Linked DNA regions of Homo sapiens. The protein of the gene in region 7 purifies or fractionates together with the protein of the main gene of each other region. This does not show direct contact. Each region holds a gene or a part of one and is shown on either strand. Other genes may lie near its edges.

The links.
Region 1: the proteins of AURKA (region 7) and SORL1 purify together in Homo sapiens (affinity purification with mass spectrometry; 4 studies listed by BioGRID and IntAct, with this or other methods). This does not show direct contact.
Region 2: the proteins of AURKA (region 7) and WDR62 purify together in Homo sapiens (affinity purification with mass spectrometry; 5 studies listed by BioGRID and IntAct, with this or other methods). This does not show direct contact.
Region 3: the proteins of AURKA (region 7) and SCYL1 purify together in Homo sapiens (affinity purification with mass spectrometry; 4 studies listed by BioGRID and IntAct, with this or other methods). This does not show direct contact.
Region 4: the proteins of AURKA (region 7) and PPP6R2 purify together in Homo sapiens (affinity purification with mass spectrometry; 6 studies listed by BioGRID and IntAct, with this or other methods). This does not show direct contact.
Region 5: the proteins of AURKA (region 7) and DICER1 purify together in Homo sapiens (affinity purification with mass spectrometry; 6 studies listed by BioGRID and IntAct, with this or other methods). This does not show direct contact.
Region 6: the proteins of AURKA (region 7) and TNKS1BP1 purify together in Homo sapiens (affinity purification with mass spectrometry; 4 studies listed by BioGRID and IntAct, with this or other methods). This does not show direct contact.

What each region holds. Positions count from the first base shown.
Region 1 is NC_000011.10:121,602,133-121,606,210, reverse strand, and holds part of SORL1 (sortilin-related receptor preproprotein), read right to left. Parts: intron 2,019-4,078; coding exon 1,887-2,018; intron 1,099-1,886; coding exon 972-1,098; intron 810-971; coding exon 640-809; intron 1-639. UniProt on the Homo sapiens protein: Sorting receptor that directs several proteins to their correct location within the cell. Along with AP-1 complex, involved Golgi apparatus - endosome sorting.
Region 2 is NC_000019.10:36,089,397-36,093,474, reverse strand, and holds part of WDR62 (WD repeat-containing protein 62), read right to left. Parts: intron 3,031-4,078; coding exon 2,955-3,030; intron 2,276-2,954; coding exon 2,164-2,275; intron 2,074-2,163; coding exon 2,010-2,073; intron 787-2,009; coding exon 664-786; intron 1-663. UniProt on the Homo sapiens protein: Required for cerebral cortical development. Plays a role in neuronal proliferation and migration.
Region 3 is NC_000011.10:65,531,166-65,535,243, reverse strand, and holds part of SCYL1 (N-terminal kinase-like protein), read right to left. Parts: intron 3,669-4,078; coding exon 3,561-3,668; intron 2,553-3,560; coding exon 2,439-2,552; intron 18-2,438; coding exon 1-17. UniProt on the Homo sapiens protein: Regulates COPI-mediated retrograde protein traffic at the interface between the Golgi apparatus and the endoplasmic reticulum. Involved in the maintenance of the Golgi apparatus morphology.
Region 4 is NC_000022.11:50,430,169-50,434,246, reverse strand, and holds part of PPP6R2 (serine/threonine-protein phosphatase 6 regulatory subunit 2), read right to left. Parts: intron 3,075-4,078; coding exon 2,865-3,074; intron 1,983-2,864; coding exon 1,918-1,982; intron 1-1,917. UniProt on the Homo sapiens protein: Regulatory subunit of protein phosphatase 6 (PP6). May function as a scaffolding PP6 subunit. Involved in the PP6-mediated dephosphorylation of NFKBIE opposing its degradation in response to TNF-alpha.
Region 5 is NC_000014.9:95,095,030-95,098,529, reverse strand, and holds part of DICER1 (endoribonuclease Dicer), read left to right. Parts: intron 1-1,816; coding exon 1,817-2,705; coding exon of another isoform or gene 2,706-2,758; exon of another isoform or gene 2,759-3,184; intron 3,185-3,500. UniProt on the Homo sapiens protein: Double-stranded RNA (dsRNA) endoribonuclease playing a central role in short dsRNA-mediated post-transcriptional gene silencing.
Region 6 is NC_000011.10:57,317,875-57,321,952, forward strand, and holds part of TNKS1BP1 (182 kDa tankyrase-1-binding protein), read right to left. Parts: intron 4,077-4,078; 5' UTR 4,012-4,076; coding exon 3,918-4,011; intron 2,839-3,917; coding exon 2,205-2,838; intron 14-2,204; coding exon 1-13.
Region 7 is NC_000020.11:56,378,516-56,382,593, forward strand, and holds part of AURKA (aurora kinase A), read right to left. Parts: intron 3,057-4,078; coding exon 2,918-3,056; intron 1-2,917. UniProt on the Homo sapiens protein: Mitotic serine/threonine kinase that contributes to the regulation of cell cycle progression.

The DNA.
Region 1 (4,078 bases), on a different chromosome or scaffold from region 7:
TGGCTCACACCTGTAATCCCAACATTTTGGGAGGCTGAAGTAGGTGGATTGCTTGAGCTCAGTAGCTCAAGACCAGCCTAGGTAACACGGCAAAACCCTTTCTGTACAAAAATACAAAAAGCTAGCTGAGCATGGTGGCACACACCTATAGTCTCAGCTATGCGAGAGGCTGAGGCGGGAGGACCACCTGAGCCTGGGAAGACTGAGGTGGTGAGCAGTGATTGCGCCTCCACTGCACTCCAGTGTGGGTGTCAGAGTGAGACCTTGTCTCCAAAAAGAAAAAAACTTAGCCACAAAATTGCTGATATGCCTCATATTTTAATGACGATGACCTCCTCCTAAGTACCAAGTACTAGGAAATATCTAGAGGAGGAACGTAGAGGTAGAAACTAGACAAAAAATGCAAGAGGGCAATGGTGGAGAGAATCTTAAATTAACTTAAGGTACAAGAACAGTCTCTGATGCAGTAAGAAGAACAGATGTTTGACAACTCTGGCAAGACTATAAAGCTTAGCCACCATACTTCTGTACATGTGAGGCACACATATGTTCCCACATTCCTGAGAATACTCAGAAAGACCCTCACAAACCCCGACCTGAGGTCTTACCCATGCCATAAAAATTAACTGAAACACTTACATCCCTCTGGGGTCCTCAGGGTCACAAAGTCATTGGTGTTGTGTGCCTTGCTGAGACACTGAACCTGTACTTTAACCTGATACGTGGTATCTGGTTTCAAGACTTTTAATACAGTGTTTGTCTTATTGCTGTGGGTCTCCAGAGTCTTCCATATGCTCTCTCCAACCACCCTGGCCCAAAAAAAAATAAAGATATTGTCACACTGGAGCAGCATGGGGGGCTGAGATGTCTGACTCCGTTAATAGCATGGTGCATGCCACTAGAGAGTTTACAGAACATCCTGGGGCAATGAAGACATCATTTTCATCTCCCATGACAAAGATGGGACCTACCTGTAGTAGACATTATATACACAAGAAGCAGAGGGCATTTTTTTGGGCCTCATCCAGGTCAAAGTCACATCCCCAGAGAAGTCAGCTGTCCACTGAAGATTCTGTACTTTGTACACAGTCAACTCATCTAGAGAGATAAAGGAGAAAAAGACAAACAAAGTTACATCTTGGCTGGGCGTGGTGGCTCACGCCTGTAATCCTAGCACTTTGGGAGGCCGAGGCGGGCAAATTGCCTGAGCTCAGGAGTTCGAGACTGGCCTGGGCAATGTGGCTAAACCCCGTCTCTACTAAAAATACAAAAAAAAAAAAGTTACATCTTACAAATCCTTAGATTTCAAAGGACTCCTGCTTTTAAACAGAACTACCATGATCTAGATTATCAGGAGGCCATAATCATTATCTGAAAAGAAATCTCAGAAAATGTAGTTGAAACCTCCCTATACAATCCCTCCTAGGGTCTCCTACTTTTCCGGTCGTGATATTTTCCCTCGAATTTCATCTTCCTCCTGCCTATGACAATTTAAGCCTATTTCTCCATAGAGAATGCTACAAGTCCAAGGACCATGTCATAGGGTCCATTACTAGACACTCCAGAGATAAGAACTGAGTTAATCCCACCAGCAGATTGAGACTGTGAGAGCCATGGTGTATGGGCATGAGGTGGGAAGTCCATAAAAAAAAAAAAATCCAAGACTAGCATTTCACTAACAGGGAGGAGACAGCTGCATGTTGTATCAGAGTCTGGCCAAGGCTCACCTCACTTGGGGCTCCAAAACTAGGCACAAATCTGTTTTATCCTTAGATTGAGCAACAGTTCAAAAGGGTCCTAGCTCAAGGTCTACACAGGAGGGGCCCTGGGGTAAGCGAGCCTCCCAGCCCAGCCCAGCCCAGCCCAGCCCGTGGACCGGCACTCACCACTGCAGGCCTTTTCATCGCTCTCGTCCGAGCAGTCCAGGAAGCCGTCGCAGCGCTCCGAGAGCACAATGCAGGCCTCCCCGTCCTCGCACTGGAACTCCCTGCTCATGCAAGTCAAGGTGCTGTGTGTGGCTGAAACACAGAGAGGCTTCTTAAGTCCACGGGGAGGGGCCGTATGGTACTAAAGGCTGGGCCCAAGTTTATTCCCATTTAGGCAAAGTACTAATTGGCTTCTGCTTCAAAACACACCTCTGGAATGACCAGTGGTGGAATCTATACCGGCACTAAGGTGCCATCTCATCTAACATTAACAACTGGAATCTGCATTCGGGAAGAGTGAGCACTTTGGAGTCAAACAAACTAGAGTTTAAATCCTAGATCTGCATGAGCTTGAGCAAACAGCTTAATATCACCTGAGTTCAGTTGCCCTATAAAAAATGGAAGTAACAATTCCATCACTATCATGTCTGCAAGGATCTAATGAGATCACACACCTGGAACACTGCCTGGCTCCTGGCCGGCATCAACAAACTGTAGCTATTACTCTATAGTACTATTAATTATTCTGCTACTATTATTAGTTTGCAATCTAGAAAGAGGAGCTGATTTCTGGTTTGAGTAACAGAAATAACAATGAGATGAATCCCAACAATATTAAGAGGCATGCATACTTTATGTAGTATTTAAAGTTGTTTGGCTTTTCAAAGTACTTGAACAGAAAATGAAATAATGCAAATAATGAGCACTGGTAAGTTAAGGGTTATGCAACTGTATGTCTAGGCTATTGACCAAAATGTGATGTGCTCTCCAGTTCTGAAAGTAGATTAAAACTGCACGGGAGGCTCCAAAAAGAAAGCAATGACCGTATAATTGCAAATGCTCCTGAAAAGAGAAAAGGTGAGAATGGCTGTAGACAGCAAATCTGCTATGCAGGCTGTGTACCTGGGTGGTACAAATCTGCTATGTAGCTGGTTGAGCCCAGGAACAGTAACTTGAGGCCTTCCTTATACAGATTCACACCTGCCTGCCCAGTCCTGGACAAGGAAGGGCTACATCAGAAATCCAATCCCACCAGTGATGAGGGTCTAAAATCAATCTTGCTCCTCCAAGTCAAAGACGTCCACATCCTAATCCCTGGAACCTGTAATATGTTACCTTATGTAACAAAGCAACTTTGCAGGTGTGATTAGATTAAGGACCCATAGGTAGGAGAGTTCAGCCTGGATTATCCAGGTGGGCTCTGTCTAATGACATGGGTCCTTAAAAGCAGAGACCCTTTTCTGGTTGTGGTGAGAGACAGAGAGAATACAGAAGACAGGTGAGAGACATGCAACATCACTGGCTTTGAAAATGGGGAAATTATAACAGACAAAAGGAGGCTGAACATGAGTGGCTCCATTCTGCTCCCCGCACCCTGCCCCCTGCCCATGGTGACATCTTGTAGGTTAACGGCCTCTGCCTATCTCTGCACGTAGGCCAAGCTAACTATGGAAGGAATTTTGTTTATAGTTTAATTTTAAAGCAAGGATGATAATAGTCCCTTCCTGAAACTAAGCCCTGAGGAAATAAAGAGAGTGTACACACAAGTAACAAAGTTATGTTAAAGGTGATATGAGCATTGTGACCTGAGCAAGGAAGCTTCATACGCCCCACTTCAGACCCAGGCATGTGGTCATGGGTCACCTCTTGACCTCGACCCCCTCCCTCTTCTCCTTCCTCCTAACATAAACAACCACACTTTGAGATATAGGTAGAGAAACTGGATAATGTTCCCATGAGAGCAACCAGGATGGTCAAGAGGAATGGATAAAGGATCCAGGGATATTTTCCTAGAGGTGAAAAGATACAAGGATGGGGGAGGTGGTGAGAAGACATGCAGACCACTCTGACAAGTGTTCTCCACTGATGAGTTTTCATGAGAAAGAAGAATTAAGACTTCTTTGCACGAGTCTCTAGGATGGAGGTACAGACTTCAGTTCACTACTTATTCAAAAACAATCCTGATAAAAAATTGTCAATAGAAGGGAACTATCAAAACCACTTATGAGGCTTTTCACAAACTATAATCCCCCATTCTCCAGGAAGATCATTGCATTTCAGAATTCTATTATATACTGAGCTGAAATTGGTTTGCCATGGTGGGGGGAAGCTCATGACAAATAAACGTGTATTCAAGAATTAGAGAAAGGTTT
Region 2 (4,078 bases), on a different chromosome or scaffold from region 7:
AACCTCCCACTCAAAATGAGCAATACCCAAACCAAAACCTCAAATCAAAAACCAGAACATGAGTTCTCTGCAAATAAAATTGGCTTTGCTACATAAAGACTTGAAAGAAATATATTTAGAAGATTCAAAGAAGTAAGTGAAGCTACAGCTTTCACGTGGGAGTAAGAGGACACGTGGCCCCACTGCAGCCCTCCCCTCAGATCCCCTGTCTACCCACCCCTCCCCTTGGCTGGCCGGTCAGGGACTGCTCTGTTCCCACAGCCGCTTGGGGCATCCCCCATCACAGTGCTGAGAGGCTCGCCAAACACTTTGCTTTTCCACTTTAATACCCTTCTCATAGCCGGGTGCAGTGGCTCACACCTGTGATCCCAGCACTTTGTGAGGCCAAGGTGGGAGGATCACTTGGGCCCAGGAGTTCAAGACAAGCCTGGGCAACACAGCAAGACTCTGTCTCTATTATTTACGAAAATTAAAAAAATCCACAAAACCTTTTTGTATCTATTACTGTAACTGCATATTCAAAGTCTGTCTCCCCTACTCAGCTGTGAGTGTGCTAAGGGCAGGGCCTAGGGCTGTCTTGGCCACCACTGTGTCCCCAGCATCACTCCATGGGGCCCTGGCAGGGACTCATCCCTCTGGTGGACAGGCAGGGGCTGCCAGGACCTGGGGTGGCCACTCCGCTTCTTGTCATTTGTGTGCTGCTGCTGCTGCCGGTGGTCAATCTCCAGCAAGTGCTGCTTCATGCAGTTGGTGATCTCCGGGCCCAGGTGCCAGATGAACACGCAGCTGCGGAGGTCAAAGAGAGACACACAAGGCAGAGGAAGAGTAAGCATGGGAGCCGCTGCCGTGGCTGACCCTGAAGCCACCCACACCACAGCCTGGACCCCATTCTCCAGATGCTCCTGGAAAACACACCCCTATCCGCTTAGTGCAGGGGTGCTGGACTTGCCACATCCACACCCTGGGCCCAGGTCTGGGGCATCCCAGCAAACCAGGGCCTGTTCTGGAGGCCTCAAGACCTGAGGAAGGGGGCTGTGGGGAAGAACTGGGGTAAATCAAAGGGAGTGACAAAAGGGACTTCCTTGAGTACCACCCATGTGCTAAAGAATGTATGTATATCATCTCATTCATTTCTCACCATACAATTTTCTTTTTTTTTTTTTTTTGAGAGAGTCTTGCTCTGTCACCCAGGCTAGGGTGCAGTGACGCGATCTCAGCTCACTGCAACTTCTACCTCCCAGGTTCAGGTCATTCTCATGCCTCAGCCTCCCAAGTAGCTGGGACTACAGGCGCCTGCCACCACGCACAGCTAATTTTTGTATTTTTAGTAGAGACACAGTTTCTCCATGTTGACCAGGCTGGTCTTGAACTCCTGACCTCAGATGATCCATCCACCTAGGCCTCCCAAAGTGCTGGGATCACAGGCGTGAGCCACTGCGCCCGGCCTCATCACACCATTTTTAAGGTAAATGTAAACGGTGGTGTCTTTTACAGGGGAGCAAACTGAGGCTCAGGGGAAATAACCTGCTCAAGGTGACAAGAAAATAAATGGCAGAGCTGGGATATGTTTTTTTAGTGTTTTGTTTTTTTTTTGAGACGGGGTCTTGCTCTGTCACCAAGGCTGGAATGCACTGGCATGATCTGTGCTCCCTGCAACCTCTACCTACCAGGTTCAAGCCATCTTCCCCCTCCTGAGTAGCTGGGACTAGAGGTGTACATGACCACACCCGGCTAATTTTTTGTAGAGATAGGGTTTTGCTATGTTGCCCAGGCTGGTCTCGAACTCCTGAGCTCAAGTGATCCACCCGCCTCAGCGTCCCAAAGTGCTGGGGTTACAGGCGTGAGCCATCATGCCCAGCTTAGAGCTGGTATTTGAACTCAGGGCTGGGTGTGACACCAAGACTCCCACAATCCAAACTGGGCAGTTTAGAAATGCTCTCTACACAGGCAGGCTGAGTGCAGTGCTCATGGTATCTGAGCCACAACTCTCCCAAAGGTCCATGTCCCACCTGTCTCCAGATACTGTGATCAAGTGATGACAGTCATAGGTGAACTTCATGCTGGTAATAATTTCTGCAAACAAAGCAGAGAGGCTGCACTTGCCTTCGGAGTCAGAGGGTGTGGGCGGGTGGGGAGGCATCCCAAGCAGAGAGGCACACCCACCTGAATGGCCAAACATCTTGGCAATGCACTCGCCCGAGTAAAAGTCAATCACTGAGATGCTTTTGTCAGAGCAGCTGGTGGCCAGGAAGGTGCCTGAGGGGTCCACATGGACCTGCCAGGAAAGGGACCCACATGTCACTCCAGCTGCCTGCTTCTTCCTTATGATGAGGCCTGGGCCCCTCCCTCCCCCGTGCTGCATGCACAGCACATGGGACTCTGGCAGGGCAGGAGCTCCCGCTCCCATTCGACACGTGAAGAAATTAACAACCACCGCAGCAGTAACAACAGTAGCCAGGCCCTGTGCTAAGCACTGAACATGTGCAAACTGAACTCCTCCAGAGAACAAGTCTATGAGACAAGCTGTCTGTGTGCATTTCAAGAGATGATGCTTGCCCAAGGTCACACAGTCAGCCTGAGGCAGAACCTGAACCCATAACTGTCCTAGACCAGAGGCTCTGAGAAGGTCCCCCCTTGTCCTGAGTGACCCGTGGCTGGTGTGGGCAAACCAGGAGGGGAGTTCATGCCTCTGATTCTTCCCACCATACCCTGCTGCCACTCAAAATGGAACCCACTTAGACGCCCCACTTGGGGAAGGGCTCTGTAAATAAAGGAAACACAGCTGGGGTCACCCTCCCCACCCTCTCGCAAGCATCCTTGTTTAACCAGGCCTGAGAAGGTGCTGGGCAGCGCGGTGCACTGAGGAAGGACCAAGGGCACAGGTCTCAGGTGTGGGCCGTCACAATAGGTGGCCCATCAGGGCAGCAGACAGACAGGGGTCTCCAACTCCTCACCTTCAGCAAGGACCCTTCGTCACCCTGGGAGCCCTTGTAGCACTTCTTCTGCTTCCCGTTCACAGTGTTGTAGACTCTGGGGAAGTAGGGGCATGTTGCGGCCAACAGGGCCCCGCCTACCCCACCACCTCATTCTCTGGCTCTTGCTGTCCTCCCCTCCCCTGGAAGCCCCCTGCTACCTCTTGTCCCCATCTGATGCCTAGACTGAAACTGAAACCCCATCTCAAGCTGAGGTTGTCCTGGGGTATCCACTGAGTTAATGTTCATCTCCCCCACACACTGCAAGCTCAGTGCTTGGCACCGCATGAGAAAGAACTGGGAAGGGGTGCAGAGCCTCTTTGCACTGCTTTGCCCTCTGCACACTCACTCTCTGCCTCCCCCTGGCTCGCTCCTCCACATCCTCCCCAGGCTAAGGTGTCTCTTCCTCCAGGAAGTCCTGCTTGATCCGCAGGTGGGGTCAGGTGTCTCCACAGGGCCCCTGGGCTCCCCCATCTCTGACCACTCTGTCACTGTCTGTGGCTGTGAGGTGGCCGTGTCCATTCTACTGGACTGTGAGCTCCATGAAGGAGGGCCTGGGGCTATCCTGGCCACTGCCATGATCCCAGCACCATCCAGCCCAGTTAGGTGCTCAGGGAATACGGGTGAATGAGGGAGTTTATGTGCCACATCAGCACCTTAGTCATCCCACACCGGCTCTAGGGAGAGCCAGAAGAAAGCCCTCTGCTGACCTGGAGGCCAGGCTTGGGAGAGCCCAGCTTCTAAGAAATACCTGCTGGTGGCCGGGCACGGTGGCTCACGCCTGTAATCCCAGCACTTTGGGAGGCTGAGGTGGGCAATATCACCTGAGGTCAGGAGTTCGAGACCAGCCTGGCCAACATGGCGAAACCTCGTCTCTACTAAAAATACAAAAAATTAGCTAGGCATGGTGGCAGGCGCCTGTAATTCCAGCTACTTGGGAGGCTGAGGCAGGAGAATCACTTGAACCCAGGAGGTGGAGGTTGCAGTGAGCTAAAATGGTGCCACTGCACTCTAGCATGGGCAACAGAGCAAGACTCTGCCTCAAAAACAAAAACAAAAAAAAACCAAGAAGGAACACCTGCTGGGTCCCTCAATTCCTTCCCAGC
Region 3 (4,078 bases), on a different chromosome or scaffold from region 7:
GCCAGGAGCAGCATGGACTGTGGGGCAGAAATGAGTGGGAACTGTGGGCTGTGGCGGGCAAAGGGCCTTGTGCAGGAACAGCCTCCTGGCAGCCCTCATCCCAGAGCACACCCATCAAAGCCTGCAAGGCCACCTCCCAGCCTGGGCCTGGCCCTGTCCAGCATGTTGAAGAAAGGGACCCCATTTCTGTCCCCCTTTACAGCAAAACCTCCAAAGTCTGTCTGCACTCCTGTTTCCCATTTCCTCTGCTCTGCTCTCCTGATGGCACTCCACCTAGACTCACACAAACAGCCCCACACTCTGCCAAACTGGCTCAGGGTGAGGTCACTGATGCCCTCCCCGGTACTAATTTCAACAGCCAGTTCTCCATCCTCACCAAACTTGACCCTCAGCAGTTCTGACACCCCTGAGTTTTCCCTCCCTGAAACTTTGGTCTCTGGTCTTCCAGGACACCACCCCCTCCTGGTTCTCCTCTGACCTGGCTGGCTGCTCCTTTTGCTGAGACTCTAACGTTCACACACCCGGAGCCAATCTAGAGGGCTCTTTTCTATCTAACACTCTTGCCCTAGGTGATCTCAGCCATTTCATGGCTTTCAATGCCATCTTGTGAGCTGACAACCCCCAGGCACATACCCCTAGCCCAGACTTCCCTAAATTTCACACATGCATAACCAGTGGCCAACTCGACATCTCCATCCAGCTGCCTAACAGAAACAGCCAAGATGGGGCCCAACATGCTTGTGTCATCTCAGTAAATAGCAACTCCTAACCTTCCAGTTGCTCAGGCCACAAGCCTCAGAGCCACTCTCGTCTCCGTATCTTTTTTGTTTCTGAGATAGAGTCTCACTCTGTCACCCAGGCTGGAGTGCAGTGGTGTGATCTCTACTCACTGCAACCTCTGCCTCCTGGGTTCAAGCAATTCTCCTGCCTCAGCCTCCTGAGTGGCTAGGATTACAGGCGCCCACCACCATGCCTGGCTAATTTTTTTAATTTTTATTTTATTTTATTTTTTTGAGACGGAGTCTTGCTCTGTTGCCCAGGCTGGAGTGCAGTGGCGCGATATCGGCTCACTGCAAGCTCCATCTCCGAGGTTCACACCATTCTCCTGCCTCAGCCTCCCAAGTAGCTGGGACCACAGGCGCCCACCACCATGCCCGGCTAGATTGTTTTTGTACTTTTAGTAGAGACGGGGTTTCACCATGTTAGCCAGGATGGTCTTGATCTCCTGCCCTTGTGATCCGCCCACCTCAGCCTCCCAAAGTCTGGGATTACAGGTGTGAGCAACCGGGCCCAGCCATTTTTTGTATTTTTAGTAGAGATGGGGTTTTACCATGTTTTACCATGTTGGCCAGGCTGGTCTCAAACTCCCATCGCCTCAGGTGATCCACCCGCCTCGGCCTCCCAAAGTGCTGGGATTACAGGCATGGGCCACCAGGCCCGGCCTAAAATAATTTCTTAAATTTTGAGATGAGGTCTCACTCTGTTGCCCAGGCTGGAATGCAGTGTCACGATCACAGCTCAATGCAGCCTCAACCTCCTGGGCTCAAGCTACCTACCTGCCTCAGCCTCCCGAGTAGCTGGGACTATAGGCGTGCATCACCATACGCGCCTAACTTTTGTATTTTTTTGTAGAGATGGGGTTTGGCCATGATGACCAGGCTGGTCTCCAACTCCTGGGCTCAAGCGATCCTCCCACCTCGGCCTACCAAAGTGCTGGGATCACAGGCGTAAGCCACTGCGCCCAGCCCCTGACCACTGTTTTTAAAACCACAAACTCTTCTCCCCACACTTTCCAACAATGCATATTTTCTTTCTTTTTTTGAAACAGAGTTTCCCTCTTGTTGCCCATGCTGGAGTGCAACGGCATGATCTCGGCTCACTGCAACCTCTGCCTCCCAGGTTCAATTGAGTCTCCTGCCTCAGCCTCCCGAGTAGCTGGGATTACAGGCATGCGCCACCATCCCCAGATGGTTTTGTACTTTTTAGTAGAGACAGGGCTTCGCCATGTTGGTCAGGCTGGTCTCGAACTCCTGACCTCAGGTGATCCGCTTGCCTCAGCCTCCCAAAGTGCAGGGATTATGGGCGTGAGCCACCGTGACCAGCCAACAATACATATTTTCTAATTCTGTTGTATTGTCTGGCAAGCCCACCCTCTGTGCCCTGGAAAGGAAGCTCCATGAGTGCAGGGGGCTGGGCACCTCATGCATGCTGCCTCCCAGCATGGGGCTTGGGCCAGGAACAGGCAGATGCTCGTTGTCTGCTGAATGGAGGACGTGCTCCCCCGCCAGCTGCCGAGCTGCACCCACGGCCTGAACCCACACAGCAAGGACAGTGTCTGCTTGGACCCATGGGCCAAAGCCAAGGCCTCTGTGTCTAGGGTGAGCCCCTCCAAGCCTTGGAAAACCAGGGGTAGCCACTCTGGGCCTGGCCACACCCACCTTGACCGTCTGCTCCCGGATGGCAGGGTTGGTGTCCAGGAAGCCATGTACGACGTGGGGGAAGATCTGGGTGTTGACTGTTGGCTCGTCAAGGTACTGGATGAACTGCTCCATCTGTGGCCCAGGTTGGGATGCGTCAACATGGTCAGCCCTTCCCACTCTATCCCCATAGCCATGGAACCGCTCCTGGCTTAGCTTTTCCACCCAGCAGGCACTGGCCAGCCAGGTCAACCTCCTGAGCCACCACCCAGGTGTTTGGCCTCAGGCCCAGGTGGAGGAGTGAGGAAAGGCCAGGAGGGCGCTAGGAAGGCCTGGCTCATAGTCCGGCTCATCTGGCCACCCTCTCAGAGCCTCTTCTATTTTTTTTTTTTTTTTTTTTCTGAGACAGAGTCTTGCTCTGTCACCGAGGCTGGAGTGCAGTGGCGCAATCTCAGCTCACTGAAACCTCTGCCTCCCAGGTTCAAGCAATTCTCCTGCCTCAGCCTCCTGAGCAGCTGGGATTACAGGCACCCACCACCGCACCTGGCTAATTTTTGTATTTTTAGTAGAGACGGGGTTTCGCCAAGTTGGCCAGGCTGGTCTTAAACTCCTGACCTCAGGTGATCTGCCTGCCTCGGCCCTCCCAAAGTGCTGGGATTACAGGCATGAGCCACTGCGCCCAGCCTGAGCCTCTTCTATAAATGAGGGTATCACCCCTTCCCTGCTCCTCCCCACCTGCCCACAGTGCCACGAGGAGGACTGGTGTGTTTGGTGGTCACAGAGGGAATGGCACTGGGAGCCACTGGTACTTCCTAGATCCCATCCATCTTGTCTGATGCTCCCAGCTGCCCTGGGGTTGCAGGAGAAAGACTGTATCCCCACTCTAGAGGGCCAGAGTGACTGAGCCAGGAGAGGAGGGGGCATTAGAGCGCTGCAGCCTGGGCAAGCTGGCCATTCCCAAAACTGCCAAGGAGCCCTGTATGTGGCCAACTTTCTGAGAGCCTGGCCTCATTGGGTCCCTCAGTTGTGTGTATGTTCAGGGGTGGGGTTTCTGGGGTCCCTGTGCAGCCAGGGCAGGTGCCTCCCCAGCCACCAGGTTGGGGTCTGGGTGGACCACCACAGAGTCTGGTACAGAGGCCTCACCTGCTGCAGGAGGCGGATGCGCATGGCCCGGTCAGTGGATGAGAACATCTTGACCACCACAGGGATGATCTTCTGCTGATACTCCTCAGCGCTCAGGAACTTGCCCACCTGAAAGGGCAGGAAGATGGGTTCAGCTGCTCACAGGAATGGGCTGACTTTGCTGGGCTTATCTAAATTCCTGGGGCTGATATCCCAGGGTGGGAATGAAGTGATGGCGGAGGGGGGGGCAGGCATTTCCTCAGTAGCTCCTCTACCCATATTCCATCTCAGCCTTGCCCTTAACCTTTCTGGGCCAAGGCCTCTTTCAGGAGGCTGATGAAAGCTCTGGGCCCCTCCCTACAAACAGGTACCTTTATGCCATATGCAGAAATTCTGCCTGCAATTTCTGGGGGTTCTCAGCTATACAGGACTTGCTTGTTGTCTTCTCCCCTCCTGACAAGTCTTTCAGATGAAAGGGTTCTCCCCAAGGTGAGGAGGGCAGGGAATGCCAGGTGCCCATAAAAAGGCGGGCTGGGGTC
Region 4 (4,078 bases), on a different chromosome or scaffold from region 7:
CGGCCCCTGCCCAGCATCCATGCCCCCAGCCCTCCTCCAGGTTCACCTCCAGAGCAAATGCCCAGCCCCTGCCCAGCGTCTGCGCCCCCGGCCCTCCTCCAGGTTCACCTCCAGAGCAAATGCCCGGCCCCTGCCCAGCATCCATGCCCCCGGCCCTCCTCCAGGTTCACCTCCAGGGCAAATGCCCGGCCCCTGCCCAGCGTCCGCGCCCCCGGCCCTCCTCCAGGTTCACCTCCAGAGCAAATGCCCGGCCCCTGCCCAGCATCCATGCCCCCGGCCCTCCTCCAGGTTCACCTCCAGAGCAAATGCCCGGCCCCTGCCCAGCGTCTGCGCCCCCGGCCCTCCTCCAGGTTCACCTCCAGAGCAAATGCCCGGCCCCTGCCCAGCATCCATGCCCCCGGCCCTCCTCCAGGTTCACCTCCAGGGCAAATGCCCGGCCCCTGCCCAGCATCCATGCCCCCGGCCCTCCTCCAGGTTCACCTCCAGGGCAAATGCCTGGCCCCTGCCCAGCGTCCGCGCCCCCGGCCCTCCTCCAGGTTCACCTCCAGAGCAAATGCCCGGCCCCTGCCCAGCATCCATGCCCCCGGCCCTCCTCCAGGTTCACCTCCAGAGCAAATGCCCGGCCCCTGCCCAGCATCCATGCCCCCGGCCCTCCTCCAGGTTCACCTCCAGAGCAAATGCCCGGCCCCTGCCCAGCGTCCGCGCCCCCAGCCCTCCTCCAGGTTCACCTCCAGAGCAAATGCCCGGCCCCTGCCCAGCGTCCGCACCCCCAGCCCTCCTCCAGGTTCACCTCCAGGGCAAGTGCCCGGCCCCTGCCCAGCATCCATGCCCCCAGCCCTCCTCCAGGTTCACCTCCAGAGCAAATGCCCGGCCCCTGCCCAGCGTCCGCGCCCCCAGCCCTCCTCCAGGTTCACCTCCAGGGCAAGTGCCCGGCCCCTGCCCAGCATCCATGCCCCCGGCCCTCCTCCAGGTTCACCTCCAGAGCAAATGCCCGGCCCCTGCCCAGCGTCCGCGCCCCCTGCCCTCCTCCAGGTTCACCTCCAGAGCAAATGCCCGGCCCCTGCCCAGTGTCCGCGCCCCCTGCCCTCCTCCAGGACACTTCTGTTTGAGTAGCACCTGCCACGTGCAGCAGGCTCACCCCAACCTCACTACCAAAAGTGCCACTGAGACAGATGAGGAAACAGACACTGCTCTCACTCCATTTTACAGACAGGGAAATGGAGGCAGAAAGGCCGTGGCGTGGCCTAAGTCCCGCTGGTGGCAGCAGTGGCGCAGGAGGTGAGCCCATGCTGCCAGCTACCAAGCTCAGGCTCAGCACCCCAAGGGGAGGGTTGGGCGGGACCTCCATGCTGTACAGCCCAGCTCGGCCTCTGCTTCCCCACAGCTGCACTCAGACCCCTCCCAGCTCCCTGGAGTCCCTCCTCATATCGCCCAGAGCCAGACAGTTCCCAGCAGGACAGCAAACGGGTGGGGATGGCTCTGGGCCCACGACAATAAGCGGGACATGTGTCCTGACCAGAGGGAGCACCCATTAAGCAGAAGATGGAAAGACCAAAATAACGCGTCCCTGTGTGCGAGTGCTGACGGAGGGCCCGAGTTCCTGGGGAAGATCAGGAACGGACAGCGGACCCACAAGAGGGCAAAGCCAGGCTGGGCGGGGGCCAGAGCAGGTGCCTGGTGGGGACGGGACCGCTTCCTGTCGGCTCCCTGTGTCCCCTCCCCAAGTAGCATTTGCAGCTGTCCGCCCAGTAGAAGGGCCCCTTGCACAGCAGCCCCAGAACGTGGAGCCACGTCGCACACCCTACACTCCACCCGATCCTGCAGTCCTGCACGCAGCGTCACCAGGGCTTGGGTGAGGTGCGTCTCTGCATCCCTGACTGGCCAGGCTGGGTCCCTCCACGTCCGAGCGGCTCTTACTGCGTGTGGTCGTTGGCTTCCCAGGCCTCCAGGATCCTCTGCACCAGGCAGCACTTCTGGAACAGCTGGGGGGCGGGGCAGGGGGACAGCGTGAGTCAGGGTCTGAAGGCGGCACGCACCCCTCCACCCATCCCTGGACTGGGCAGGGCTGGCTGGCGGCCACGTCTGTGTGGACTTTGCAGGCCCTGACTGCTGCGCACGCACAGCCCCAGCCTCCGCGGTCCTCACCAAACACCAGAGGAGGGTGCGGTTCGGGGCTCATACTGCTGAGCGCCCTAAAGATGAAGCCCGAGAAAAGGACCCTCTCCCTTCTCCTCCAACTCCTGGAATTGCCCCCTGACCCCTGTCTTCCCCTGGGCCTTCTCCCCGTCTCTCCATTGCCCTCCACTTTGGCCACTCTCCTGCCCTCTTTCTCTGTGTCCGGAAGAACGACTAGGGCTGTCTGCCCTCAGCACTTTCTCTCACCTCCAGGCCCTGACACAGATCACTTCTTGTACCTGAGATGTTTTTCCTGGGCTCCACCTCACACTACGATATACCTGTGGCCTTGCTATCCGGGTGACAGTCCCTGGTTGGCCTGCATGTCCCTCAGCATCCCCTCCCCACCGTGTGGCTCCCATCACTGACACTGCTGGCTCCCTGGGCATTTATTCCCTGGGCCTCCAGCTGGAGGCCAGACTGAACTCATCTCATCCAGTGCTAACCCTTGCCAGGCCTGCACGTGGAAGGCACCAGTACCCCTGCTGAAGGCAGGTAGGAATGAGATCTGCAAGACCCACTCAAGCCCCACTGTCTACGAGCGTCTGACCAGACACCTGGGGACCCTTTTCAAAGCCCTGCCCCCGTGTCAGCTGCACAGTGAGGTCCGGCACACGTCAGCGCTGACATGGACACGGTCTGAGTGGGGCGCAGTTGGCGCTGATAAGATGGATGCTTCTTGGACTCACGTGGGTCACCATTGTGTTGTCAGGGAGGCTGGCGGCCGGCTGGGGAGTCTCCAGGCTCCGGTTCCCGTTCTCATGCGGAGGCTCCACCCTGCTCTCGGATCCGCTGGCTTCTGTCCTCTCCTCACGGGCAGCGTGGGAGAGAATAGCGGCTATGCATAGTTCCACTTGGAAGTGCAAAAAGTTATTCCAGGTGTACTTAAAGAACAAGTCCTGGGTAAACAGAGGACAGAAGACAGTTCTTAGATCGGTTTTCTCCTGCCGGCTACACCACAAAGCTGAGGGAAACCCTTCCTAAAGGTGGCGTCCTAACTCCTCACAAGTCCAGTCTCTGGGTAGCTAGGAAGGAGTTTTAAGCGTTTTCCTGAGGGTCATCTCTCTATTACGGAGCTTCTTCAAATAGCCACTGAGCACTTCTGCCTCCTGCCTGTGGGTGTCTGTTGGTCTCTGCTTCAATCTGAATCATCACCTTTCTACTTTCTGCGGGTTTATTCTTTTTTTTTTTTTTTTTTGAGACGGAGTCTTGCTTTGTCTCCCAGGCTAGAGTGCAGTGGCACGATCTCGGCTCACTGCAACCCCTGCCTCCTGGGTTCAAGTGATTCTCCTGCCTCAGCCTCCCTGGTAGCTGGGATTACAGGTGCCCACCACCATGCCCAGCTAATTTTTGTATTTTTAGTAGAGACGGGATTTTGCCATGTTGGTCAGGCTGGTCTTGAACTTCCAACCTCAGGTGATCTGCCCGCCTCCGCCTCCCAAAGTGCTGGGATGACAGGCATAAGTCACCAGGCCTGGCTTCTTTTGTCCTTCAGTTGGAAGCTCAACTCATTAATTGCAGCCTTTCTTTCCAGTCTGTCTTTAAAGGCTACATTTCCCTGTATACAATCAACTTTAACTACATTCTACACATTTTGCTAAGTAGTATTTTTATGATTCTTCAGTTCTAAGTATGTGAGAAGTTCCTTTATGATTCTGTCTTTCTCATGAATTATTGGAAGTGTGTTAGACTCTCAAGCACATGAGGATTCCACCCAGGATGGGCAGGCGTGTGCATATCGTCCACCACACAAACGTGAGACTGTGAGGGGCACATTCAGACACTCCCCAAGGGAGCCCAGACTTAACCAGCATGGGCTGAAGCCCAGAGGTGGTTCTGGCCACCTAGATACTCCCCTGGGGGACAGAGGTGGCTGAACGAGGACAGCTGCCATCTCTCACCT
Region 5 (3,500 bases), on a different chromosome or scaffold from region 7:
ATTTTTCTTAATGTTTCTGATGGCACTTTGGTTATTGGAATTCATTAGAAATACTGTTCAGATTTTTATTTAGTAAGTTACTTTTATTGAAATATAGGCCCTTGCATTATATTGAAAAGATACACTGTGGTTTTGGCTGGTTGCATTGCCATTCTCCCTACCTTGCTCTGGCCCTTCAGCAAATGGGCTTAAGTGGAAACCTTTGCATGCTAAAACGCCTCTTAATAGACGAGAGTATCAAAGTTGACTTGAATGATATAGAAAAGGATTTCATGTGGCTGTTTTTTCTTAAAAGGCTTGAAGTGCTCTTGAAAAACATTTTATGAGACAGAACCCCACTCTTTTGTAGATGAAGCATCTGAAACCCAGAGGCACTAAAAGGCTTTGCCCAGGATCACACAGTTTGTGATAAAAGTCAGCCCTTTGTGATTTTTGTGCTCTGCCACTTTTGGCTTATGGTGGCACCTTTCTAAAGATACAGAAGGTTTTTTTCAATAAAAAAAAAATATTGTCTGATTTTTTAAAAATCGCAGTTTGGCCCTCTTTTTCTTAAGGACCAATCAAAAACATCTTCATGTTGCCTTGGAAAGTCTAAGATTGTTAGCAGGAAATGTTCCTTGAGGTCTGCCGCTACAGTTGCTTTTGGTGTTCCTTATTCTTGAAAAGGTGTTTCTTTCTTAATTAAAAAAATGAAAAGATAAATAGTTAGAGATATGGCTTGGCTTACTGCTATTTCTTTTCAGACAAATGTAGTGTTTATATCTTGAGTCTAGTTTAAAATATTTGTAGTATTTAAAAAATGCTTGAAGGTTGCAACTTTTTTTTGTCAGAACACTGGAAAGTTGTTACAATCAACATTGATGCACACCCTTCGTCTTCCCCCTTCACAAGTTTTTTGGTTTTTTAAAAACTTGCATAACAGAAATTTGGCATCTTTCTAGGATTGCAAAGAAGTTACATCATTACTGAAATCTAGCCCATTATTAAGGTTGTCACTCACAAATAAGCTTTTGCCAAAGAAATTGGAATTAGCAAAGATCTTTTGACAGAAATTGGATTGTTGTGTTTCATGTTAGTCTAAATTTTCTTCCATTTTTGTCAGTTATGCTATAATCTGTTCCCCTGATTACCGTAGTTCAGAGTGGAGGGAAAAAACGTAACTTCTCAAATTCATAGCTTAGTGCAGTGATCACTTTTATTTTTTAAGGAAAGCAGTGTAGTTTTTTTGTGGCAAGTATACTTTGAAGTGGAAATAGGGACAAAAAGCTTTATTATAAAATCCTATTGTACATTTTAAAAAATGATTTTATCTGTTTTTATATTATATTCTTAATTGCAAAGGTAATGCTTTTCTACATCTGGAATTTCGTTTTATTAGTTTGAAAATCTTTTTGAAAATCAAATTACCACATTTTCAAATTTTGTCAGCAAAATTGAAGATCTGTGTGATCAGCATATGAGTGCTTTCATTGTGTGTCCTACCAGAGTTAGACGACTTAGTTGAAGTTTTGCATTGTGGACATTAATTTTAACTTTATATCCATGTTCAAAGTCCTTAACTTAAAGCTTCATACTGGATAAAGGTCATTTTATAACTTAGAAAACGAACATTCAAAGAACATGTTTTACTTTGTTTATATGATTAAATAACTTATTTTATGTTAATTGAAAACAAATGGCCATGATTTTAAAGTTGCCTTTTAGTATTTGTGGTTGTCATTTGAAATTATCCATAACCCTTGCTTTTATTGAGTTTCAAACCCTTTTAAAAACAGCAGCTATGTTTCCCCTCCTTCCCCATTCCCCCTCGTTTCAGACAAAAGACTGCATGCTGGCGAATGGCAAACTGGATGAGGATTACGAGGAGGAGGATGAGGAGGAGGAGAGCCTGATGTGGAGGGCTCCGAAGGAAGAGGCTGACTATGAAGATGATTTCCTGGAGTATGATCAGGAACATATCAGATTTATAGATAATATGTTAATGGGGTCAGGAGCTTTTGTAAAGAAAATCTCTCTTTCTCCTTTTTCAACCACTGATTCTGCATATGAATGGAAAATGCCCAAAAAATCCTCCTTAGGTAGTATGCCATTTTCATCAGATTTTGAGGATTTTGACTACAGCTCTTGGGATGCAATGTGCTATCTGGATCCTAGCAAAGCTGTTGAAGAAGATGACTTTGTGGTGGGGTTCTGGAATCCATCAGAAGAAAACTGTGGTGTTGACACGGGAAAGCAGTCCATTTCTTACGACTTGCACACTGAGCAGTGTATTGCTGACAAAAGCATAGCGGACTGTGTGGAAGCCCTGCTGGGCTGCTATTTAACCAGCTGTGGGGAGAGGGCTGCTCAGCTTTTCCTCTGTTCACTGGGGCTGAAGGTGCTCCCGGTAATTAAAAGGACTGATCGGGAAAAGGCCCTGTGCCCTACTCGGGAGAATTTCAACAGCCAACAAAAGAACCTTTCAGTGAGCTGTGCTGCTGCTTCTGTGGCCAGTTCACGCTCTTCTGTATTGAAAGACTCGGAATATGGTTGTTTGAAGATTCCACCAAGATGTATGTTTGATCATCCAGATGCAGATAAAACACTGAATCACCTTATATCGGGGTTTGAAAATTTTGAAAAGAAAATCAACTACAGATTCAAGAATAAGGCTTACCTTCTCCAGGCTTTTACACATGCCTCCTACCACTACAATACTATCACTGGTAAGGAGCCCACGACCAGACTTCATTTCTGGGAAAATGAGACTTTGTGTTGATCTCATCGTGTTGGCCTTGTAAAAGTGATCTATGCATGTACAGTGTTCATGCTTAATATTCAAGGGATGGGGCGGGGAACAAAAGGAATAGAAAGAATTCTTTTCCTTGTTATTTGGGGAGCACGTATTGCTTTATAACTTTGGTTGTTGGGAGTATGGCTATCATATACCCTCATCAGTGTCATTTTATATCTGCCTAATTAGAGAAATTTTAACCTTAGTATTTTGATGTGTTTTCCCCATTTTATCCTCCGCAAATATCTTTCTCTTGCCCATTCAGTGCTGCTTTTGGTTTTTGATTTAGTTGTATATTCTGGATGTATTTCCACAGCCTTTTATTGTTCTTCCTGGACAAAAAGACCCCTCCTTTAGGGTCTTTTTAAAGATGGATAGATTAAAAGATTAAAAGCAATGATTTCACAAGAAGGTTGCGTGGCCCTTGCTGTGACTCTGCTGTCATCTTCTACTTCTCACTGTGCTCTGTATTTGCCCCTCTTTTAATAGACTGTCAACCCATTAGATTAGAAGGGAGAACAAGCCCCTCACACCCAAATCAGCTTCAGGCTGTGAAACACAGCTGAAGTTTACATTTCAATTTCTGTATCAGAAAAATAAGTGCCTGAATTCAGAACACCAAAGCAAAGTATAAAGTTTGTAGTTTATATAATAAAAGCAGCGTAGGTTAAGGTGATCAGCAAAATGTAAAAACCAAAAAGTGAAAAACTATCTGACTCTGGACTGG
Region 6 (4,078 bases), on a different chromosome or scaffold from region 7:
GGAAGGAAGGCTCCTGTGAGGGACGAGGACAGGAAATGGAAGCACGGAATGTTAGAGTCTGTCACAGAATGGAAAATGTGGGAGAGTCTCCCAGTGCAACTTTAACAGCACCCAAAGGTTAAACCCTCCTAGCCATTTACTCTTGAGCCCTGCCTGCAACTATTAGGGACACAGAATCTGTCCATTTTCCATTCGGCAAGTGCCCCAGAAAACAGTGCTTATTCCCTACCTGAGCATGAAGGGTTAAATTCCCCAGCTACTTTAGGAAAAGCATCCTGGATGCCCAGACCTCTCAACAGCTCCTAAAAAGATAACTCCTCTTTCCTTTAACCCATAAGGAGTTAAAGTTCTCCTCTAGCCAGGAAGAGTGCAGCTGGTCCTGCTGCCCTGCCAATACTTCTTGAAGAATTGCAGTGGGGGAGGGGAAGAGGAAAGAGTGATTTTCCAGGGTTGAAGTTGTTCTTAAGCCCTACTTGGAGTGAGGGAGAGAAGGAAGATGGCGGGTGGAACCCAGCCTGGGCAAGAGTGTGACCTCACAGCACCCTGGTCTGGGACAGGCAAAGGACTAGCTCTGGGGCCAAGGCTCCAGACACTTTCAGGTGAGAGAAGGGCAAGGCCAGAGGGCAGGGCAGGGCAGGGACCCTCAGCTTCCCGCTTAGCCCAGACCACACCAGCTCTTGCCTTCATAGCAGTAGGAAGAGAAAGGGAGCCTCTGAGCCCAGCAGAGCTGTTAAAGGCCCAAGGAGCCAGCCATACCTCAAGCTGGCTCTCCCAGCACTAAGGACAGCCTCTGTGCAGCTGATGGCTCCTGAGATGCCTCAGCCTCTTCCTCCAAAGTCCCGTGCCCAGCACCCCAAGAAGCACCTCCTGGCCAGCCTTGCTTTACACTAGTGGCAACTCTGGAGAAGCGTATCATATGCAAATATCTCCAACCAGCCAAAATCTCTGTGCAGACACTAGCTGGCCTGGCATCAAGATGTGTTCCTCTCGCAGGGCGCAGTGGCTCACGCCTGTAATCCCAGCACTTTGGGAGGCCGAGGCAGGCAGATCACGAGGTCAGGAGATCGAGACCATCCTGGCTAACACAGTGAAACCCCATCTCTACTAAAAATACAAAAAAATTATCCGGGTGTGGTGGCAGGCGCCTGTAGTCCCAGCTACTCGGGAGGCTGAGACAGGAGAATGGCGTGAACCCAGGAGGTGGAGCTTGCAGTGAGCCGAGATTGCGCCACTGCACTCCAGCCTGGATGACAGAGCGAGACTCCGTCTCAAAAAAAAAAAAAAAAAAAAAGATGTGTTCCTCTCTTACCTCTCCCATCAGATTCCACCTCACAGGCAGAGACTGTGCCCTACTCATCCTGACACACGCAGCCCCACCCCAGGACTGGCACACTGCTCTGACCACTGTAAGAGCTGGCACTTAAGAGCAGAGGATTTGGAATCAAACAAACATCTGTCTCTGCCTCTTAACTTGCCGAGACTATGGAGTCATTTTTGAGCCTCAGTTTCCTCATCTCTACAATGGATCTAATACTCCCTTGAACAAACAGGATGCCAACGAGGCAAAGTTTGGTGCCCAGCTCTCAGTATATAGAAACTAAACTTCTTGGCCGGGCGTGGTGGCTCATGCCTGTAATCTCAGCACTTTGGGAGGCCGAAGCAGGCAGATCACCTGAGGTCAGGAGTTCAAGACCAGCCTGGCCAACAGGGTGAAACCCCAACTCTACTAAAAATACAAAAAAATTAGCTGGGCGTGGTGGCCCACGCCTGTAATCCCAGCTACTCAGGAGGCTGAGGAAGGAGAATCACTTGAACCTGGGAGGCAGAGGTTGCAGTGAGCCGAGATCGCACCACTGCACTCCAGCCTGGGTGACAAGAGCAAAACACCATCTCAAAAAAAAAAAAAAAAAAAGTCTATTGTCTATTAAACTTCTATACTGTACATTTGAACTCTCTAACATAAACCTGCATCAACTCTGTAAAGAAAACTACAACTTTAAAAGCATACAGTAATGATAACACCATCTGCTGGGGAATGATTTGTGACCTAGATCGGGATCTGCCTGTACTCACAGCACACAACCAACCTACAGGTAAAAGTCACAACCCTATATGGGGCCATGCACTTGGTCCCCAGCCCCCACCCAATCCCACCCCACCTGACCTCCAGGCTGCCACAAAATATACAACCTCCCACCCTTCACCTCTCCTCAGGGGTCTTGCTGTGCTCTTCCCGGCACTCTGCTGGAGACTTTACTGGCCCCTCCTGGGACCATCCCCTGAAGAGGGTGCTGCCATCCTCATCCCTGGGAGCAGTGGTCGTGCCATAGGTCCTGGGGCCATATCGCGAGCTGCCATCGTGGTTAAAGGTGAGGCGGGAACCCCACAGGCGGTCGGGGCTGGCAAGGACCTCCTTCCGAGGCTGCTCCATCTTGGCCAGGATCTCTTCCACCGTGGTGGCCGCGAAGCGCTCTGAGGCTGGGCGGAAAGGGGCAGGGGCCTTCCGTACACCCCCTGGGGCTGCACATCGAGCTGGGGGTGTCAAAGGGGGTGGCTCCTCTTTCCCAGCCTCCTCTTTCCCAGTCTCTTGGGTGGCTTCTCCTCCAGTGGAGGCCTCAACCGCAGGCCTTGGTGCAAAGGGAAGGGGGCGCTTGCTGCCACCATAGGGCTGGGGTCCTGCCAGCATGTTCATCTTCCTGGCAGAAGGCAACTCAGCCAGGGGACCCCGGGGAGGCCGAGGCCCAACAGGCACCAGCAGGCTGGGTTTGGCAGGCAGGGCTGGCTTGGCAGGCAGGGCCCGGGGTTTGGGCTTGACAGGGGGTTTGGCCCGAGTGTCACCTACCAAAAGGAAAGGGTTGGTGGGGGAGCTGTCAGAAGAACCAGGAAGCAGAACTTCTTTGTTTCCTGTTCCACCTCATCTCCCACCCTCCGATTTAAGAATATTCACATCTTTCTAGGCACAAGTCATATGCCACCTCTTCCATGAAGCCTTCCTTGATTTTCTACACACATCCCCAAAGCATCTTCTCCCTTCTTCAAACTCCCAAAATGTTTTAGCCAATTCCCCTTTTAAGCTGAAGCTATTTAAGGACCCACCTGGCACCTTACTTCTTCCTGTACTGTATTTTGCCCCTAGCATAAGTTATAATTAAACAAAAGAATGAATGAACAAATGAGCCAATAAACAAATGCCTGCCTGTCCCTATCAAGCAGTCAGCCCCCCCATATTCCCAATCTAGTTTTTTCACCTTATGTGACACTCTTCTCTATCATCCATAGTAAACTTTCAATCTCAGCTGAGCTTCTCTATCCTGCCTCCAGGCTGCCTCCTCCCCCACCCACAGCACACTCCCAGGCCACCTCCCCACTGTCATCTGGTGTGTGACTGGGAATGCAAACTTACTATTGACCCAAGTCAAACAAAAGTAAATCTGCTATGGGAAGAAAAAAAAAAACAGGACCAGAAATCTACCTTCTATATAAAGCTAAATGACCTTGGAAGTACCCTCGTCCACAGTCCTCCTGATGGAATCCCGTACCTCCTACACATTTGGCTAAATAGAAGAAAAGAGTCTACACAAGGAGCCAGGAGGTCTGGGTTCAAACTCCCACTTGTACACTCCATTTTTCCCTGTGGGCCTCAGTTTTCCCCTCTGCAAAGCATGCAGCTTGATCCATATCATCTCAAAGGTCCCTGTCTGCTCTTACACCTGTTGGAGATTTATGATCCCAAACAGTTCTGAAGAGTCTCAAGAGAAGCTGAGAACCTTTCAAACTCATCCTGTACTGCCTTGGTACTCCTTCCCTATCTCAACAGAATCATCACTCAACCACCCCCCAAGACAGAAAGAGGGGGCAGCCTCTGTCCTTCCCACCCCCCTCCCAGCCACCTGGCTCCACCCTGCACCCATTGGTACCTGGCTCAGAGCCAGTAGGCACCAGCTCCTCCTCCATCTCCCGGGGCAGTGGGGAAGCCATGGCTGAGCTTTCCCTGAGAGTAGACACTTTCATCACATGCGGCAGACCCTCCTTGAGAGCGGGGAGGCAGAGAGGTATGAGCTGGGGTGGCTGCAGACCT
Region 7 (4,078 bases):
GCAATAGCACTCCTATATATGTGCCCAACTAATTTGAAGACTTGTTTCGCAAAAACCTGCATGCAAATGTTGACAGCCAAAACATGATAACTGCCAAAAACCAGAAGCAGCCAAGATACCCTTCAGTAGACGAATAAACTGAGGTACTTCCATATAATGAAATAATGGAATATGATTTTGTGATAAACAGAAATGAACAAGCTCTCATGCCTCCAAAAATACACAGATGAATCTTCAATGCATATTGCTAAGTGGAAGAAGCCCACCTAAAAAAGCTACATACTGTTATGATTCCAATTACATGATATTCTGGAAAAGGCAATAGAGACAGTAAACAGATCAGTGGTTGCCAGAGATGGAAGGGTTGGAAGGGATGAGTAGTTGAGACACAGGATTTTTTTTTTCTTAAGAGCAGCGAAACTATTCTCTATATCATAATGGTGGATACATGGCATTGTGTATTTGTCGAAATTCATAGAACTTTACAGCAAACACACAAAAATCAATCTCAGGATATGAAAATGTAAATGATTCCATCCTGGGCATGCAGATTGTGACAAAAAAATCTCATTGCATTACAAATGTAGGAAACCACCTTACTAAAGGGCATGAGGGTAAAGTGTTGATCCAAGCAGCTTTGGAAATGAGTGGAATCTATAAGACAAAGGCCAAAGGAAGTGCACATAAGCACTCTAATTGATAAAGTTGGTTCCCACGTGGCAGCTGGTTAACAATTCTGATACCATTATACATGTATATTGGAATTGAATAAGTAAAAGGATGGTGGGCGGTGAAATCCAGGTTTCACACTTTTGGAGTGGGAGTTTACAGGTAAACAGGAGGAAGTTAGAATGAAACGTGGTAATGGATTCAAGTTGAAGACATCAGTATGAATTCATGGTATGCTTAATGAAGAGATAGATGGATAAATCTATACACAGATTACTATCCACATATATTCCCTTGCTGTGTCAGCTGAAAGCCTAAAAGTAGTGACACCATAGTAGCAATGAGTACACCAAGTGCCCAGAGCTTGGTTTCTAATAACATTCTCCAAGAAAAGGAAACAGGGCTCCTTGGAGAAGTGGTTCGATTCTAGGACTGGAGCAGGAAATATACACGATGAGGCCTGAGCATCTTGTATCAGAAAGTAAGGAAGTACAAGGCCAGGCGTGGTGGCTCACACCTGTAATCCTAGCACTTTGGGAGGCTGAGGCGGGCAGATTACCTGAGGTCAGGGGTTAGAGACCAGCCTGGCCAACATGGCAAAACCCCATCTCTACTAAAAATACAAAAATGAGCCGGGTGTGGTGGTGCATGCCTGTTAATCCTAGCTACTCAGGAGGCTGAGGCAGGAGAATCGCTTGAACCCAGGAGGTGAAGGCTGCAGTGAGCCAAGATTATGCCACTGCACTCCAGCCTGGGCGACAGAGTGAGATTCCATCTCAAAAAAAGAAAAAAAAAAAAAGGAAGTGTAAAAACAAACCAAAAAAAAACCACACACACGCAAGACAAAACTGCAATGATTTTCCCAGGAACCTGGTAAAACAAAAAGAGCAGGCCGGGCACGGTGGCTCATGCCTGTAATCCCAGCACTTTGGGAGGCTGAGGTGGGTGGATCACAAGGTCAGGAGTTCAAGACCAGCCTGGCCAATATGGTGAAACCCCGTCTCTACTAAAAATACAAAAATTAGCCAGGTGTGGTGGTGGGTGCCTGTACTTCCAGCTACTTGGGAGGCTGAGGCAGAAGAATCGCTTCAACCTGGGAGGCTGAGGTTGCAGTGAGCCAAGATAGCGCCACTGCACTCCAGCCTGGGCGACAGAGTGAGACTCCGTCTCAAAAAGAAAAAAAAAAAAAAAGAAAGAAAAAAAGTTCCCAGTGGCCAAAGTTGCAATGATCTGAACCACAAAATAAAGTATTGCATTATAGCTCAAGAGATAAAATAAATACCCAGGAGTCTACATCTTTAAATAAATAAATGATTAAATAAATAAGGGAGAACAGCCTTATCTCTGGCACAGAATTCCAGATAATTTATGGCAATACTCCATCCACTCTCTACTCCTTAAGTGTGGGCTATTCATAGTAACTTCCTTTGAAGAAATACAGCACGGAAAGGGGAAAAAATAGTAACTTTACAGTGGAGAAACCAGACAAACACTCTCTGAGTCAGAAGATCAAGCTGACATCCACAGTTAAAAGTCATAAGAGTTTACATCCCTGGTATGTGATAAGAATGCACTTTACCTCTGATCTCCCTCTCAAAAACCCATAAGCCCAATTTAATCATGAGAAAAACTAAGAAAATCTGAATAAAATGTGGACTTGAGTTAATAGTTATATATCAATATTGGTTCATTGAATGTGACAAATGTGCCATATTAATGCAAGATGTTAGTAGGAGAATTAGTAGGAAATTCAGTGTGGGGTATATGGGAACTCTCTGTACTGCCTTCACAATTTCTGTAAATCTAAAACTATCCTAGCCAGGTACAATGGTGTGCACCTGTAGTCCCAGCTACTCGGGAGGCTGAGGTGGAGAATCACTTGAGTCCAGCCTGGGCAACATAACAAGACCCTGTCCCTTTAAAAAAAATAAAATAAAATAAAAATTATTCTAAAATAAAACATCTATTAAAGAAAATGAGGGTGACTATCTATATACATTATATACATTTCCATAGAAAACAGCTGTGCAAACTAGGCACAAAAGCAGATACAACATTCTACCTGGTTCTAGACTTTATCTGTACATATGGTACAACTAAGCTATTTTGATTTTTCCACTTCAAATATTTGATATTAAGCTATCCTTACGTCAAGACAAAACCCACTCTACTATGATGAAAGGTACATTGCTATGGAGGACAGGTATAAAGGAAACACAATTAGCCTGGACAATAAATGAACACTTACAGTAGCAGTTCTCTGCTCATCAAACTTTGAAAGTTTCTGAAGTTCTCTATAAACTGTTCCAAGTGGTGCATATTCCAGAATTAGGTAGACTCTGGTAGCATCATGGAAATAACCATACAGTCTAAGAATATTAGGATGCCTGCAACAAAGGATAAACATTCTAACACTTGGTTTGGAGCTCACAGAAGACTATGTACAAAATGTCAAACAAACTCTTCATGTAAAACCAGTGGTGTTTCACATGAAACCACACTCCAAACCCCACTTTAGAATCTGAAACTATAAACCCACTCCAAGAAAAATACATACACCCACATATCATTTTAAAAGCACTTCACAGTATTAATGGACCTCTGGTTTAGTTAAGACTATTTCCTTCCTTTAGGCACCTTTATTCTTAGGAGGAAAATTCAGCTGAATATTAATTATCTACATATTAAAAAAAGGACATGGCCGGGCACAGTGGCTCACGCCTGTAATCCCAGCACTTTGGGAGGCCGAGGCGGGAGGATCGCGAGGTCAGGAGTTCAAGACCAGCCTGGCCAACATGGTGAAACCTCGTCTCTACTAAAAATACAAAAATTAGCTAGGCTTGTTGGTGCATGCCTGCAATCCTAGCTACTCAGGAGGCTGAGGCAGGAGAATCGCTTTAACCTGGGAGGCAGAGGTTGCAGTGAGCTGAGATTGCGCCACTGCACTCCAGTCTGGGCAACAGAGCGAGACTCCATCTCAAAAAAAAAAAGGAAAAAAAAAAAGGACATGGCATTGCCACAGTAGTTTGACACCCAGACACTGTGACAGATAAAAGCAGTGATCAGTAATGGCAGTAGATGGGTGCTGAGCAGACTGGGCAGGTGCAGACTGTGGCCAGCGGGAAGCAGGCAATGGGAAGCACAGCCCATGTGAGATGCCTGCCCCTCCCAGCCCCAGCCAGGTGTTGCCAGGCAGAGACACACCAGGCCTGATGTGGCCAGACTTGAAGTATTAGCATCTGATTCAAATTTGAAAAACACTGAAAGAAAAAAAGGAAAAACAAAAACCCACCAGCCGTAGTCAACCTGCAGGTAGCTGCTCGCAATTCCTGCATACCTCAGAATAAGGGGTGCCATTCCCCTTCACTGTCCACCAGAAAGACTTGCCCATATAAACTATTCTATTAAC